Homo sapiens: one gene and its partners. The protein of the gene in region 4 purifies or fractionates together with the protein of the main gene of each other region. This does not show direct contact. Each region holds a gene or a part of one and is shown on either strand. Other genes may lie near its edges.

Region 1 (4,058 bases), on a different chromosome or scaffold from region 4:
CCAACCGGCTGTGCGCCTTGGCCTTTCCCGGGTCCAGAATCTGACAGCACTCACACCTCTGACTTCCACACTTGGGCTTCTAGCCAGTGTCCAGGCACAGGATGAGCAGGACTGAGGAGCGTGTCTGTGTCCTCTTCTGGTGCAGGTCAATAAGCATGCGTTTTCTGGAGGGAGAGACACCATCGAGGAGCACAGGCAGTTTGGGGGCAACTGTGATGTGGACGTGTCTTTCATGTACCTGACCTTCTTCCTCGAGGACGACGACAAGCTCGAGCAGATCAGGAAGGTGAGCAGGGAACCCCAAGGGCCCACAGCCGCCTTCTGCCACCCACTCCTGCCCATGGGGCCTGGAAGGCTCCAACAGCCAGGCATGAAGGCTTGGTCGGAGGTGCTCAACTGAAACAAGGTGAAAACTGAGTAGACTCGCCCTCATGGTTTTTAGGCCTGGGCTCAGAAGCCTCATGAACAAATCTCGAAAGAGCAGATACAAATCACTATTCATTTAGGAGCCACCCAAAACAGTCTTGCTTTATTAGTCATCAGAGAAATGTAAGTTAACGTGATCAAAGCTAAGACAGTTGAGTATAGAATTAGTAGGGGCTTTTGTGTTGCCATTGACTATTTTCAGTGATTATGAAGCAGATGCTTCAAGGCACACTCAAGTGAGCAGAGTGTTTATCAGCACAGCCTCAGGAAGCAGTTTGGTACTGGGTACAAAGAGCCCAAAAATGTTCAGAGCTTCTCCTCAGGTTTTCTCATTCTTAGATTTTTTCCAAGGAAATAATCCTGAGTAAGAGAAAGCTTTCCACACAAAGATGTTAAAAATGATAATAGCAAAAAGTTCAACACAGACTCAGTACAACAGAGGAAACGTTAAATTAGAATTGTTACAGGGTGGATTATTATGCGGGCATGAACTATTTTAAGTGTTCATATGCAGGGCATGGTGGCACACATCTGTAGCCCCTGCTACTTGGGAAGCTGAGACAGGAGGATCCCTTGAGCCCAGGAGTTCAAATCCAGCCTGGGCGACATAGCAAGACCCTCATTTCTTTCTTTTTTTTTTTTTTTTGAGACAGAGTCCTGCTCTGTCACCCAGGCTGGAGTGCAGTGGCGCAATCTCGGCTCACTGCAAGCTCTGCCTCCCGGGTTCACACCATTCTCCTGCCTCAGCCTCCCGAGTAGCTGGGACTACAGGCACCCGCCACCATGCCCGGCTAATTTTTTTGTATTTTTAGTAGAGACAGGGTTTTACCGTCTTATTCAAGATGGTCTCGACCTCCCGACCTCGTGATCCACCCGCCTTGGCCTCCCAAAGTGCTTGGATTACAGCTGTGACCACCGCGTCCAGCCAAGACCCTCATTTCTTTTAAAAAAAAAAAAGTTTTAGTGACACAGGAAAATATGCCTATGATAGTGAAAAAAGGATACCAAATGAAAACTCAGGGAGGAGTTAACTATGTTTAAATGAAATGCACAGGGAAAGAAATGTGAAGAAAATCTACCAAATGTTAGCGGGAGACCCACCTCTGGGCATTTTTCAGGTGGGCAATTTGTAGGTGATTTTTCTTTACTTTGCTGCTGCTTTGTGGTTTGGGTACTTTATTAAATTTGCTTAATGAGCATGCAGTACAATCAGAAAAAGAAAAAATTAGCAAGATTTGGCTGGGCGCAGTGGCTCACGCCTGTAATCCTAGCACTTTGGGAGGCCGAGGCAGGTGGGGGGAGTGGATCACGAGGTCAGGAGATCGAGACCAGCCTGGCCAATATGGTGAAATCCCATCTCTACTAAAAATACAAAAATTAGCCAGGCGTGGTGGCAGGCACCTGTAATCCCAGCTACTCAGGAGGCTGAGGCAGGAGAATCACTTGAACCTGGGAGGCGGAGGTTGCAGTGAGCTGAGATCATGCCACTGCACTCCAACCTGGCAACAGAGTGAGACTCCATCTCAAAAAAAAAAAAATTAGCAAGATTTTACAGAAGCCATAAGGCTGCCAGGAATTGTTGTTGTTTAGTGCCTGGGGGAATGGCCCCTAGCATCGGTAGGGGTGGGGACTGCCCTCCCCATTGGCCCTTTCACTGTGAGAGGCCAAGTCATGGCTATCGTCAGAGCCAGGTTTCTAGCCGTTTTAGGAAAAGTGTAGCTGAAGGTATAGGTTATTGTTGTGGTAACAACAGATCTCACTTCTGAGTGCCACCCACGTGCCAGGCTCTGCATGGGTGGTGTGGGCTGAGCTGGTGCCCGAGGCAGGAAGGAGCCACTCAGGACATGTGGAGCCATCTCTCACGTGGCTGTCTCCCTCCGGGCAGGATTACACCAGCGGAGCCATGCTCACCGGTGAGCTCAAGAAGGCACTCATAGAGGTTCTGCAGCCCTTGATCGCAGAGCACCAGGCCCGGCGCAAGGAGGTCACGGATGAGATAGTGAAAGAGTTCATGACTCCCCGGAAGCTGTCCTTCGACTTTCAGTAGCACTCGTTTTACATATGCTTATAAAAGAAGTGATGTATCAGTAATGTATCAATAATCCCAGCCCAGTCAAAGCACCGCCACCTGTAGGCTTCTGTCTCATGGTAATTACTGGGCCTGGCCTCTGTAAGCCTGTGTATGTTATCAATACTGTTTCTTCCTGTGAGTTCCATTATTTCTATCTCTTATGGGCAAAGCATTGTGGGTAATTGGTGCTGGCTAACATTGCATGGTCGGATAGAGAAGTCCAGCTGTGAGTCTCTCCCCAAAGCAGCCCCACAGTGGAGCCTTTGGCTGGAAGTCCATGGGCCACCCTGTTCTTGTCCATGGAGGACTCCGAGGGTTCCAAGTATACTCTTAAGACCCACTCTGTTTAAAAATATATATTCTATGTATGCGTATATGGAATTGAAATGTCATTATTGTAACCTAGAAAGTGCTTTGAAATATTGATGTGGGGAGGTTTATTGAGCACAAGATGTATTTCAGCCCATGCCCCCTCCCAAAAAGAAATTGATAAGTAAAAGCTTCGTTATACATTTGACTAAGAAATCACCCAGCTTTAAAGCTGCTTTTAACAATGAAGATTGAACAGAGTTCAGCAATTTTGATTAAATTAAGACTTGGGGGTGAAACTTTCCAGTTTACTGAACTCCAGACCATGCATGTAGTCCACTCCAGAAATCATGCTCGCTTCCCTTGGCACACCAGTGTTCTCCTGCCAAATGACCCTAGACCCTCTGTCCTGCAGAGTCAGGGTGGCTTTTCCCCTGACTGTGTCCGATGCCAAGGAGTCCTGGCCTCCGCAGATGCTTCATTTTGACCCTTGGCTGCAGTGGAAGTCAGCACAGAGCAGTGCCCTGGCTGTGTCCCTGGACGGGTGGACTTAGCTAGGGAGAAAGTCGAGGCAGCAGCCCTCGAGGCCCTCACAGATGTCTAGGCAGGCCTCATTTCATCACGCAGCATGTGCAGGCCTGGAAGAGCAAAGCCAAATCTCAGGGAAGTCCTTGGTTGATGTATCTGGGTCTCCTCTGGAGCACTCTGCCCTCCTGTCACCCAGTAGAGTAAATAAACTTCCTTGGCTCCTGCTCTTGTCATTGTGCTCTGTCTGGGAGGTCTGAGGAGGGAGCAGAGACCCCTCCCCTCACCCTTCTGTGGATGACCTTGAGTCTGCTGGAGTCAAAATTTGGGGATGAAAGCGCACAGTCCCAGGAACCCCATGGTGTTGTGCCACAGCTCCCAGGAATGGGCTTGTGCTGGGAGAGCCCTTAGCAGCATCCTGGTGCGGGCTCCCTCTCACACCACATTTCTCATTTCCAGCAGCTGATGGAGAATGCAAGCAGAGGTTGTCCTCGCTTTTCAGAGGAGGGGCTGGCCGTGGGGTGCTTAGTGGTGCTGTGTAGTGACGGGGAGCACAGGCTGGGAGCCAGGTCGGGCCCCATTCACATGAGGCCCAGGGCAGAGGCCGAGCTGCAAGGGAGCCCTGGGCTCATTCTACCGGCCCATCCTTATTTTGCAAGTAGGGAAACTGAGGCTTAGGAGAGGAGAACATGACTTGTCCAAGGCCATAGGGTGACTCTGATACAGC
Region 2 (3,500 bases), on a different chromosome or scaffold from region 4:
AGGCTTTGAAGGCAACACTGCATTTCTTTTCACCAAACTGATTCTATTAGGATCATCCAAAGATCCAGAATGCTCAAGAGACTTTGCATATACCACAGAACTATCTTTCGGCCAACTCTTTTCAGTTAATGACAAATTATGAAGTGGTTCTATTGGTTTTGGGACATGTGGCTTATTGGTATTGGCCTTGACTGCAATGCTAGGAGAGGGCCGGGAAGTATGGCTTACATCGGGTTGATTTTGACTAACAGTTTTTCCTTGCGCTTCGTTTCTACTTTGACAAACAATGACACTTCTCTTTTGAGAACTGTTTTCATCATCTTCTACAAACACTTTTTTTCTATTAGGACACGTTGGAAAGGGGGCTTGAGGTGTTTTAGAAACGATGTTAGTCAGAAAGGAAATCCCAAGACTATAGCCAAGTTCTTGCACAGCAGCAAGGCTGCTCTTCTCAACAAATAGAGAGGAAGAATAAATGTAGTTTAAAACATTATCAAAAGCATCTGGCTCACAGAAGTCAAGCTGAAATACAGTTTGTGACTCATTTTCCTTATTTGTGAATAAACTCTGAAAGTATTCGCTGCTGGCAGCCAAGACGTTTTTATGAGCTCGGAACTTTTGGTCTCCAACAATCAGCAGCACATCACACAGCTGTCCTTTGAGACGCTCCTCATTCAGGGCACTTAGGAGAGAAATGGCGTGTGCAGGGTTGATGTAATGCAGTAATCCCTCCATGGCTTGAGTTTATCTAAAAGACAAAATGTAAAATTACTACAGATATTGCAGTGAAAAGTTCCCCTGGCTCCTCAAGAGCAGGGAACATCAGCTGTCTTTGCATAGGTACCAATATTTAGCAGACCGTAGGCTAACAGAAGCTCTATGAATGAACAATCTTATTTAAATAATGGTGAAAATGTAAAATAAGTCTCGTGGTTTAAGTAGGTCCTCATTAAAATAGAAGAATTGCAGGAACTATAATATAGGCATTTGTATATCATCAAAAAGGCTGCCAGAACTTGGCAGGTAGATATGGAAGCAATATTTGAAAATAAAGGTTTATTATTTAGGGTCCTTATCCATTTGATGCTTGGCACTATTCCTTACCAATTCAGAAAACAAGTACGAATTATCAAACCCCTGAAGTCTATAATTCTGAAAGAAAATCAGCTTTATTACTACATATACTTAAACATAATGTGAACTGTTAACAATTGGTTGCAAAGCAGGTCTTGTGAGACCCTTGTTTTTATTTTGAGACAGGGTATCTCTCTGTCACCCAGGCTGGAGTGCAGTGGCACCATGATGGCTCACTGCAGCCTCAATCTCCTGGGCTCAAGCAATCCTCCCACTCAGCCTCCTGAGTAGCTGGGACCACAAGCACATGCCACCTTGCCAGGTGATGCGGTTTGGTGGTGTCCCCACCCAAATCTCCTCTTGAATTGTAACTCCCACAATTCCCACGTCGTGGGAGGGACCCAGTGGGAGGTAACTGAATCATGGGGGTGGGTCTTTCTCGTTCTCTTCTCATGATAGTAAGCCTCATGAGATCTGATGATTTTATAAAGAGGAGTTCCCCTACACAAGTTCTCTCTTCCCTGCTGCCATGTGAGATGTGACTTGCTCCTCCTTGCCTTCCACCACGATTAAAAGGCCTCCCCAACCACGTGGAACTGTGAGTCCACTGAACCGCTTTTTCTTGTAAGTTACCCAGTCTTGGGTATGTCTTTATTAGAAGTGTGAAAATGGACTAATACAGTAAATTGATACCAGTAGAGTGGGGCACTGCTGAAAAGATACCCGAAAATGTGGAAGCGACTTTGGAACTGGGTAACAGGCAGAGGCTGGAACAGTTTAGAGGACTCAGAAGAAGACAGGAAAATGTGGGAAACTTTGGAACTCCCTAGAGACTTGCTGAATGGCTTTGACCATAATGCCAATAATGATACAGACAATGAAATCCAGGCTGAGGTAGTCTCAGATGGAGATGAGGAACTTGTTGGGAACTGAAGCAAAGGTGACTCGTTATGTTTTAGCAAAGAGACTGGTGGCATGTTGCCCCTGCCCTAGAGATCTATGGAACTTTCAACTTGAGAGAGATGATTTAGGGTATCTGGCAGAAGGAATTTCTAGGCAGCAAAGCATTCAAGAGGTTCTCAGGTGCTGTTAGAGGCATTAAGTTTTATAAGGGAAGTAGAGAATAAAAGCTTGGAGAAGTTGCTGCCTGACAGTGCGATAGAAAAGAAAATCCCATTTTCTGAGAAGAAATTCAAACTGGCTGCAGGAATTTGCCTAAGTAAGGAGGAGCCGAATGTTAGTCACCCAGACAATGGGGAAAATGTCTCCAGGACATGTCAGACCTTTGCAGCAGCCCCTTCCATCACAGGCCCAGAGGTCTAGGAGGAAAAAATGGTTTTGTGGGCCAGGCCCAGGGCCCCCTTTCTGTGTGCAGCCTAGGAACTTGGTGCCCTGTGTCCCAGGTGCTCTAGCCATGGCTGAAAGGGGCCAAGGTACAGCTTGGGCCATGGCTTCAGATGGTGCAAGCTCCAAGCCTTGGCGGCTTCCATGTGGTGTTAAGCCTGCAGGTGTGCAGAAGTAAAGAACTGAGGTTTGGGAACCTCCGCCTAGATTTCAGAGGATGTATGAGAACACCTGTATATCCAGGAAGAAGTCTGCTGCAGGGCTGTGTCCCCTCCATGAGGGGCAGGGCCCCATGGAGAAACTTCTGCTAGGGCAATGCAGAAGGGAAATGTGGGGTTGAAGCCCCCACATAGAGTCCCCACTGGGGCACTGCCTAGTGGAGATGTGAGAAGAGGGCTACCATCTTCCAGACTCCAGAATGGTAGATACGTCGACAGCTGGCACTGCGTGCCTGCAAAACTCACAGACACTCAATGCCAGCCCATAAAAGCAGCCAGGAGTGGGGGCTATACCCTGCAAAGCCACAGGGGCAGAGCTGCCTAAGACCATGGGAGCCCACCTCTTATATCAGCTTGACCTGGATGTGAGACATGGAGTCAAGGGAGATCATTTTGGAGCTTTGAGATTTGACTGTCCTGCTGAATTCTGGACTTGCACCGGGGCCTGTAAGCCTCTGTTTTGGCCAATTTCTCCCATTTGGAACGGCTGTAGTTACCCAATGCCTGTACCCCCACTGTATCTGGGAAGTAACTAACTTGTTTTTGACTTTGCAGGCTCATAGGCGGAAGGGATTTGCTTTGTCTCAGAAGAGACTTTGGTCTGTGGACTTTTGAGTTAATGCTGAAATTAGTTAAGACTTTGGGGGACTGTTGGGAACGCATGATTGGTTTTGAAATGTGAAGACATGAGATTTGGGAGGGGCCCAGGGTGGAATGATACAGTTTGGCTGTGTCCCCAGCAAAATCTCATTTTGAATTGTAGCTCTCACAATTCCCCACATCTGGGAGGCACCCAGTGGGAAGTAACTGGATCATGGGGGCAGGTCTTTCTTATGCTCTTCTTGTGATAGTGAATAAATCTCA
Region 3 (3,500 bases), on a different chromosome or scaffold from region 4:
TAATTTCAAGGTTAGCAGCACTCCCAAAGAAGCTGTCCGGGCTGGGTGTGGTGGCTCATGCCTGTAATCCCAGCAATTTCAGAGGCTGAGGCGGGCGGATCACCTGAGGTCAGGAGTTCGAGACCAGTCTGGCCAGCATGGTGAAACCCCGTCTCCACTAAAATACAAAAATTAGCCAGGCGTGGTGGCAGGTGCCCTGTAATCCCAGCTACTTGAGAGGCTGAGGCAGGAGAATCGCTTGAATCCAGGAGGCAGAGTTTGCAGTGAGCCGAGATCGCGCCACTGCATTCCAGCCTGGGCGACAGAGCAAGACTCCATCTTGAAAAAAAAAAAAAAGAAGCTGCCTGACCAGGGGGCAACGAGGAGGAGGATGTGGAAGGGTGATGAGCCCCAAGGGGACAGAGTCCTTTCCCCCTTCTTTTTCCTGAGTTCAGCTAGAATTACATGGGTAAAAGTTTCCATTGCTTGGGAGAGGAGGAAGCGAAGAAGAAAGAGGTATAGAAGCTTCCTTTTGATCCAAGGTCTTTTCCTCAACCCTGGCTGGAACCAGAATCCTAAAGGTTTCCTAACTTTTCCAAATGATTTGCTTGGATGTCTCCTCCCTGAGAGGGCCTCAGCTTCTGGTCTCCAGGGGACAGGGGTTGAGGAAGCAGCTAGAAGACATTGGCCTTTGCTACCCTTTTTCACTTTTTTCCCCTGAGGTCCAATCAACCAGTACCAGGGTGTAAGTATGAGGCATTCATTGTCCCACCCCCCAATCTACCCTGGCCTTCAGGCCTTGTTGGCAAAGGGGAAGGAGGACACAAGTGTGCACGTAGCTAAGGAGGAGCTGGTGAATATGGGAATAGACTGGTCCTTGCTGAAGTGGGGCATTTAGAGACCCTTATTGAAGTAGACATAAGGCTCAAGTTCTCCATACTTGGCCTTGATAGTGTCTTGGAGCTTCGGTTCCAGATAGGAAACTGGCAATTCACTGAAAAGAGAGAAGTGGATTATGAGCATGCCACCAGGAACAAGCAGTAAGTTACCCTCAGATGAATATCACCTCCAAGAAGCCCTCCTGATTTTTCCATCTAGGATTATTATTGGCCTCTGTATACCACAATGTTGCTTTACCATTACGCAGGCCTGACTTCATTCTCCTTGGGCTATGGTTCTTCGTTTCAACTTCCATCTTCTCCACAAGATTACAAACACAGTGCTTGGGACACAAGAGATGTCTAGCAGATGACCATGGAAGTAGTATTGAACTAGAGTACTGAGGAAGGGGAGACTGGAATTGTCTGGGTATATATTCAAGCTACACTTGTCTCCTGGGGTCAGTCACCCTCCACCCCCTAGTCTGATGTATCCCTTCCCTTTTCCATCATCCCTTCTCCCTGCTTCCTCCTTCTTGGACACACAAAGGAAATAGAGGGGTTTCGGTTGTCAGCCCTCTGCCTGTCCCTTTATTTATTTATTTATTTATTTACTTATTTATTGAGATGGAGTTTCACTCTTGTTGCCCAGGCTGGAGTGCAGTGGTGCAATCTCGGCTCACCGCAACCTCCACTTCCCAGGTTCAAGCAATTCTCCTGCTTCAGCTTCCCAAGTAGCTGGGATTACAGGCATGCACCACCACACCCAGATAATTTTGTATTTTTAGTAGAGACGGGGTTTCTCCATGTTGGTCAGGCTGGTCTTGAACTCTCGACCTCAGGTGATCTGCCCACCTCGGCCTCCCAAAGTGCTGGGGTTACAGGCGTGAGCCACCACGACCAGCCCCCTTATTTAATGTTAACGACCAACGGGGAACGGTGGCTCACGCCTGTAATCCCAATACTTTGGGAGGCTGAGGCGGGCAGATCACCTGAGGTCAGGATTTCAAGACCAACCATGGCCAACATGGTGAAACCCCATCTCTACTAAAAATACAAAATGAGGCCAGGCGCGGTGGCTCACGCCTGTAGTGCCAGCACTTTGGGAGGCTGAGGCGGGCGGATCACAAGGTGAGGAGATTGAGACCATCCTGGCCAACATGGTGAAACCCCGTCTCTACTAAAAATACAAAAATTAGCTGTGCGTGGTGGCACGTGCCTATAATCCCAGCTACTCGTGAGGCTGAGGCAGGAGAATCGTTCAGGGAGTCGGAGGTTGCAGTGAGCCGAGACTGCACCTCTGCACCCCAGCCTGGCGACGGAGTGAAACTCCATCTCAAAAAAAAAAAAAAAAATGAGCTGGGCATGGTGGCAGGCACCTGTAATCCCAGCTACTCTGGAGGCTGAGGCAGGAGAATCACTTGAACTGGGAGGCGGAGGCTGTGGTGAGCCGAGATCGTGCCACTGCACTCCAGCCTAGACAACAAGAGTGAAACTCCATCTCAAAAAAAAGAAAAAAAAAAAAGTTAAAAACCAGATCCAGCCAGAGGAGAGCTTCCTAATAACCCAGCTGGCAGGAAGAGAAAGTCTGTTGTTGCTCCCCCACCTTCTCTTCAAGGCAGTGCTTGCTCCACTGGGAGGGAGCAACCTTATTCCTGTCCCTGGCTTCTCCTGCCCCTCGCAGATCTGTTTTCGTTTGTCAGAATTCACCAGGGTTAAGAGGCCCAGCCTTTAGGCTGATGGACACTTGTCCTCAGACAGGTGCTGCCCTTCCTGCCCCTTCCCTGTCTCCTTCTGGACAGCAGGCAGATCAGGGAGCGCGCTGGCAGCATGGTCAATTAAACCAAGTAAGGAATGAACAGCAGATACCATTTCTGTGGGAAAAGCCCACACGCCACTGGCACCATGAAGATGAGGCTGCAAGAAAGGAGAAACCAAAGCATCAGGGGACATCTCCCCACAGGCCCGTCCATCCCCCATCCCCAAGGGAAAGGAGCAATGCCCAGGCACCTGGCCTGCCTTCCCAGCTGGCACCATATCCTCTCCCTCCAACCCTCCTCCTGTTCCCGCAGTGCGAGGATACTCATTCTGGCAGGGGGATAAAACCAGTACCCTCCTGACCCCCATCACTCATTCCCACCCTTACTGCATTGTTCAAGCAGAGGAAGAAGACAATGAAGTAAACAGGGACTGTGAGCAGCAGGCCTAAGGAGCACAGGCACTGCTGGCATCGAGCGAAAGGAGCGACGAGGAGGGAGAGGAGAAACTTGGAGGGGGAGGAGCAACATGGAGGGGGAAGAGCGACATGGAGGGGAGGAGCATCATGGAGGGAGAGGAGGGACATGGAGGGGGAGGAGCGACATGGAGGGACAGGAGCAACTTGGAGGAACAGCATGGAGGGTGGGGAGCGACTTGGAGAGGGAAGAATGACTTGGAGGTTGAGGAGCAACTTGGATGGGGAGGAGCGACTTGAAGGGGGAGGAGTGACTTGGAGGGAAGGAACTACTTGGAGTAGGAAGAACTACTTGGACAGGGAGGAGCAACATGGAGAGGGAGAAGGACATGGAGGGGAGGAGCAACATGGAGAGGGAGGAAGGACACAGAGGGGAGGAGGGATGAGGAGGGAGAGGAGCAACTTGGAGG
Region 4 (3,500 bases):
CAAGGCCCTGGGAGGGACAGTATTGGGTAAACAGGATACGGAGATGGCTCCCACCCCAGACCTAGCCACTAAGCCCAGGAGAGCTGGCCAGATGGACCCCAGAGCCTAGCGAGCCAGATTGAGTGGGGCAGAAGCCTATGCAAGAAGCTGGGAGGTGTGTGAGGGGCACTACTGCTAACGAAGGAGTCTGGGACCACAGACATGCCTGGCACAACATGGAAGATGCTGTAAGCCTCAGTGCCACCCTCAACCTCAGCGACAGTGTGACTCCTGACGCCTGACCCCAGCCCAGGCCCAGGCTCTGAGCAGGGCTCTCCTGCTCCATGCCTCCCAGTCTCGGTCCTTCTGCCAGGACCTGTGCGCACAGAGGGAGGCCCCTGGGAGTCAGCATGAAATGGGGTAGGGGAGAACCCAGGAGAAGGATCGAAGCCTCCAGACACCCAGGAAGGGGGCCTGCAGGGACTCTGGACACTGCAGTCAGGGTCCCCCGGGATGTGGGTTCAGAGAAGGATCTAGGGTGACAGCAATGGGAACAGGTGGCAACTGCTTCCCGGGCCTTTGGGTCAGTGGTCCTGCGCTGTCGCCCCCAGAGAAGCAGCTGACGGCCAGCAACTGCCTGGGCGTGCTGGCCATGGCCGAGGCCATGCAGTGCAGCGAGCTCTACCACATGGCCAAGGCCTTCGCGCTGCAGATCTTCCCCGAGGTGGCCGCCCAGGAGGAGATCCTCAGCATCTCCAAGGACGACTTCATCGCCTACGTCTCCAACGACAGCCTCAACACCAAGGCTGAGGAGCTGGTGTACGAGACAGTCATCAAGTGGATCAAGAAGGACCCCGCGACACGCACACAGGTGGGGCCTGCCCTGTCCCCCGCCCCTTCTCTCTGGGTTTGGGGTCCCCCTGCGGCAATGGGGTCTGCAGCAAGGAGGAAGGAAGTGAACCTTCCTTGTCCTGCTCTCCCTAAGTGGCAGAGAGGTGAAGGGCGGGCAGAGAGGTGAGAAACCAGTCACCAAAGGATCCTCAAGGGCTGGCATTCCACCCCAAAGGAGACCCAAGTCGGCCAAGAGCCGCAGCACCTGCACTCTGCAGGGAGAAGTGGGTCCCTGAGCCAGGGGGCTCTGGGGCTCCCAGGAACACGGACCCAGCTGGAGGAGCCCATACCTGCTCTGATTGTTGAGGGGATGGACAGCCCGCAATGGACCAAATGGAAACCCCTGCATGCAGGAAGAGGGAGAGTGAGGTCCTGAGGGGACTGTGTTGGGTAAACAGAGGATACAGAGAGGGCTCCCGCCCCAGATCTCGCCATTGAGCCCCAGAGAAAGGGGTCCTCAGATCAGGTGGGAGGCAGGGTTTCTTTTCAGAGGTAGGAAGTTAGATGGGGCAGCTAATAACAGTGACAGCCACAAGTCCCTATGACTCCCAGATCTGTGTCTCAGGCTGAAACCCTTTCCTGAGCTCCAGACCCCTCTGCTCAGTGGCCTTCTGGGCCTCTCCAGCAGAATGTCCTGCAGATCCGTCTAATTCACCAAGCCGAAAGCCTACACCTCTTCCTGTTCCTTATTTCAGCGATGCCTGGTCCCCAGAACTGAAGCTTAGCTTCCTCCCACTTCTCCCATAGCCATTTCGCTACACGCGCTCATTCCTGCCTCCTTCCTCCCCTTTAAGTGGATCGACTTCCCTCTCCCCATCGAGACCTTCCTCCTCTCGCCAGGATTACTGCAGCACCTCCTAAGTGGTTTCCTTGCCTCTGTCTTGCTCCCTCCAAATCCATTTTCCACCCTCCAGCCTGAGCGGTCTCTCTAAAAGCACACTGAACATCTCATCCATCCACTCAAACCCCTCCTCAGTTGCCTCGTCGACTCCACAGGGGAAACTGTGCAGTCCTTGTTGAGCATGAGCATGAGCTGGCCTCCCCAGCCTCTCTCCTCTCACTTCTCCCTGTCTCCCTAAACGCCTCCTCAACAAAATCCTGTTACATCTCGTAAGAATAAACCCCAGACAATTCTCCAGACACACCATTCTCTTTCACTCTCTGACGCCTCTACACGGGCTTCGAATGTCCACCCTCCCATCCACCTTGTGCCTGGCAGAAGTCTGCCCATTTTGTATACCCCATCCAGATGCCATTCCCTCTGCAAAACCTCTTACTCCTGCACCCACTACAAACCCTCACTAGACACTCCTCTTGCCCCTCGTGAATTTTTCATAGCAGATCCCCTCCCATTAAACTGTGTACCCCTTGAGGTCTGAAACTGGGTCACAGTGGTCTCTGCACCCCCAGTGATGAGCGTCATGCCTGGCCTATGGTGGTCTCGTTACTCATGGGATGAAACGAAAGTAGAGTGATGAGCAGAGTTTGTTAGGAGGGGAGATTCAAGGGAGCCTGTAAAACCACCTCAGTGCAGGGTGACAGTTTGAGGCCGTGGGACATGGGACACCACTGAAAGTTTTCGGTGCTGGAGAGACACAGGCTCCCACGGCTGAGACTTACAAGCTCAATAGTCGCCATCTCCTTGAAGCTTTCCTGGGTCCTCCCACCTGTTCCTGAGTCCTTGTCACACTCACAGCTCTTTAATAATCGCGTCTTCCTCATTTTAACCCCTCGCCCCTGCCCCCAGTGGCCTGATCTGCAGCAGGGGTCCACAGCCCCAGGTGGAGTGAGAGAATGGGGTGCTGGGGGGATGAACACATGCTCCCACTCCTGCAGGGCTGGCTGCAGCCTGCCAGCCTCCCCTCCGCACCCCTGCGCTCCCGGCCCTCCCCTCCACACCTCCAGCTGACTAGACTTCCCTTCACCTCTGTCTAGGCTAGCAGAGTATCTACACTCCCAAGCCTAACACAGCCTGGAATTATCCATTCTTGTGCAGCCCCACACCATTTCTTTCCGTCCGGGAGGTGGCTCTCTCTTGCTAGTCTAAGAAGATTCTGTCTCCTGTACCCTGCAGTACGCGGCTGAGCTCCTGGCCGTGGTCCGCCTCCCCTTCATCCACCCCAGCTACCTGCTCAATGTGGTTGACAATGAAGAGCTGATCAAGTCATCAGAAGCCTGCCGGGACCTGGTGAACGAGGCCAAACGCTACCATATGCTGCCCCACGCCCGCCAGGAGATGCAGACGCCCCGAACCCGGCCGCGCCTCTCTGCAGGTATGAAGGGGCACGCCCCGAACCTCCCAAGAAGCAGTGTCTTGGGCTCAGTGGTTCCAGTGAGGTGCCAGGCACAGATGCCGACAGTCTTAGAGTGTGTCCCAAGGGCGCCCATCCATGTCCCTGCAGGTGTGGCTGAGGTCATCGTCTTGGTTGGGGGCCGTCAGATGGTGGGGATGACCCAGCGCTCGCTGGTGGCCGTCACCTGCTGGAACCCGCAGAACAACAAGTGGTACCCCTTGGCCTCGCTGCCCTTCTATGACCGCGAGTTCTTCAGTGTAGTGAGTGCAGGGGACAACATCTACCTCTCAGGTGAGGCCCCCCGGGGTTGGGGCGGGACCAGGCATGGGGGTCCCA

The links. The genes of interacting proteins can lie anywhere in the genome.
Region 1: the proteins of KLHL29 (region 4) and WARS1 purify together in Homo sapiens (affinity purification with mass spectrometry, with the first as the bait; one large-scale study listed by BioGRID). This does not show direct contact.
Region 2: the proteins of KLHL29 (region 4) and ZBTB21 purify together in Homo sapiens (affinity purification with mass spectrometry, with the first as the bait; one large-scale study listed by BioGRID). This does not show direct contact.
Region 3: the proteins of KLHL29 (region 4) and SFXN2 purify together in Homo sapiens (affinity purification with mass spectrometry, with the first as the bait; one large-scale study listed by BioGRID). This does not show direct contact.

What each region holds. Positions count from the first base shown.
Region 1 is NC_000014.9:100,333,290-100,337,347, reverse strand, and holds the end of WARS1 (tryptophan--tRNA ligase, cytoplasmic), read left to right. Parts: intron 1-145; coding exon 146-286; intron 287-2,311; coding exon 2,312-2,473; 3' UTR 2,474-3,558; downstream 3,559-4,058. UniProt on the Homo sapiens protein: Catalyzes the attachment of tryptophan to tRNA(Trp) in a two-step reaction: tryptophan is first activated by ATP to form Trp-AMP and then transferred to the acceptor end of the tRNA(Trp).
Region 2 is NC_000021.9:41,993,361-41,996,860, forward strand, and holds part of ZBTB21 (zinc finger and BTB domain-containing protein 21), read right to left. Parts: intron 749-3,500; 5' UTR 736-748; coding exon 1-735. UniProt on the Homo sapiens protein: Acts as a transcription repressor.
Region 3 is NC_000010.11:102,735,136-102,738,635, reverse strand, and holds part of SFXN2 (sideroflexin-2), read right to left. Parts: intron 2,775-3,500; coding exon 2,727-2,774; intron 974-2,726; coding exon 874-973; 3' UTR 1-873. UniProt on the Homo sapiens protein: Mitochondrial amino-acid transporter that mediates transport of serine into mitochondria. Involved in mitochondrial iron homeostasis by regulating heme biosynthesis.
Region 4 is NC_000002.12:23,692,679-23,696,178, forward strand, and holds part of KLHL29 (kelch-like protein 29), read left to right. Parts: intron 1-590; coding exon 591-850; intron 851-2,944; coding exon 2,945-3,143; intron 3,144-3,272; coding exon 3,273-3,455; intron 3,456-3,500.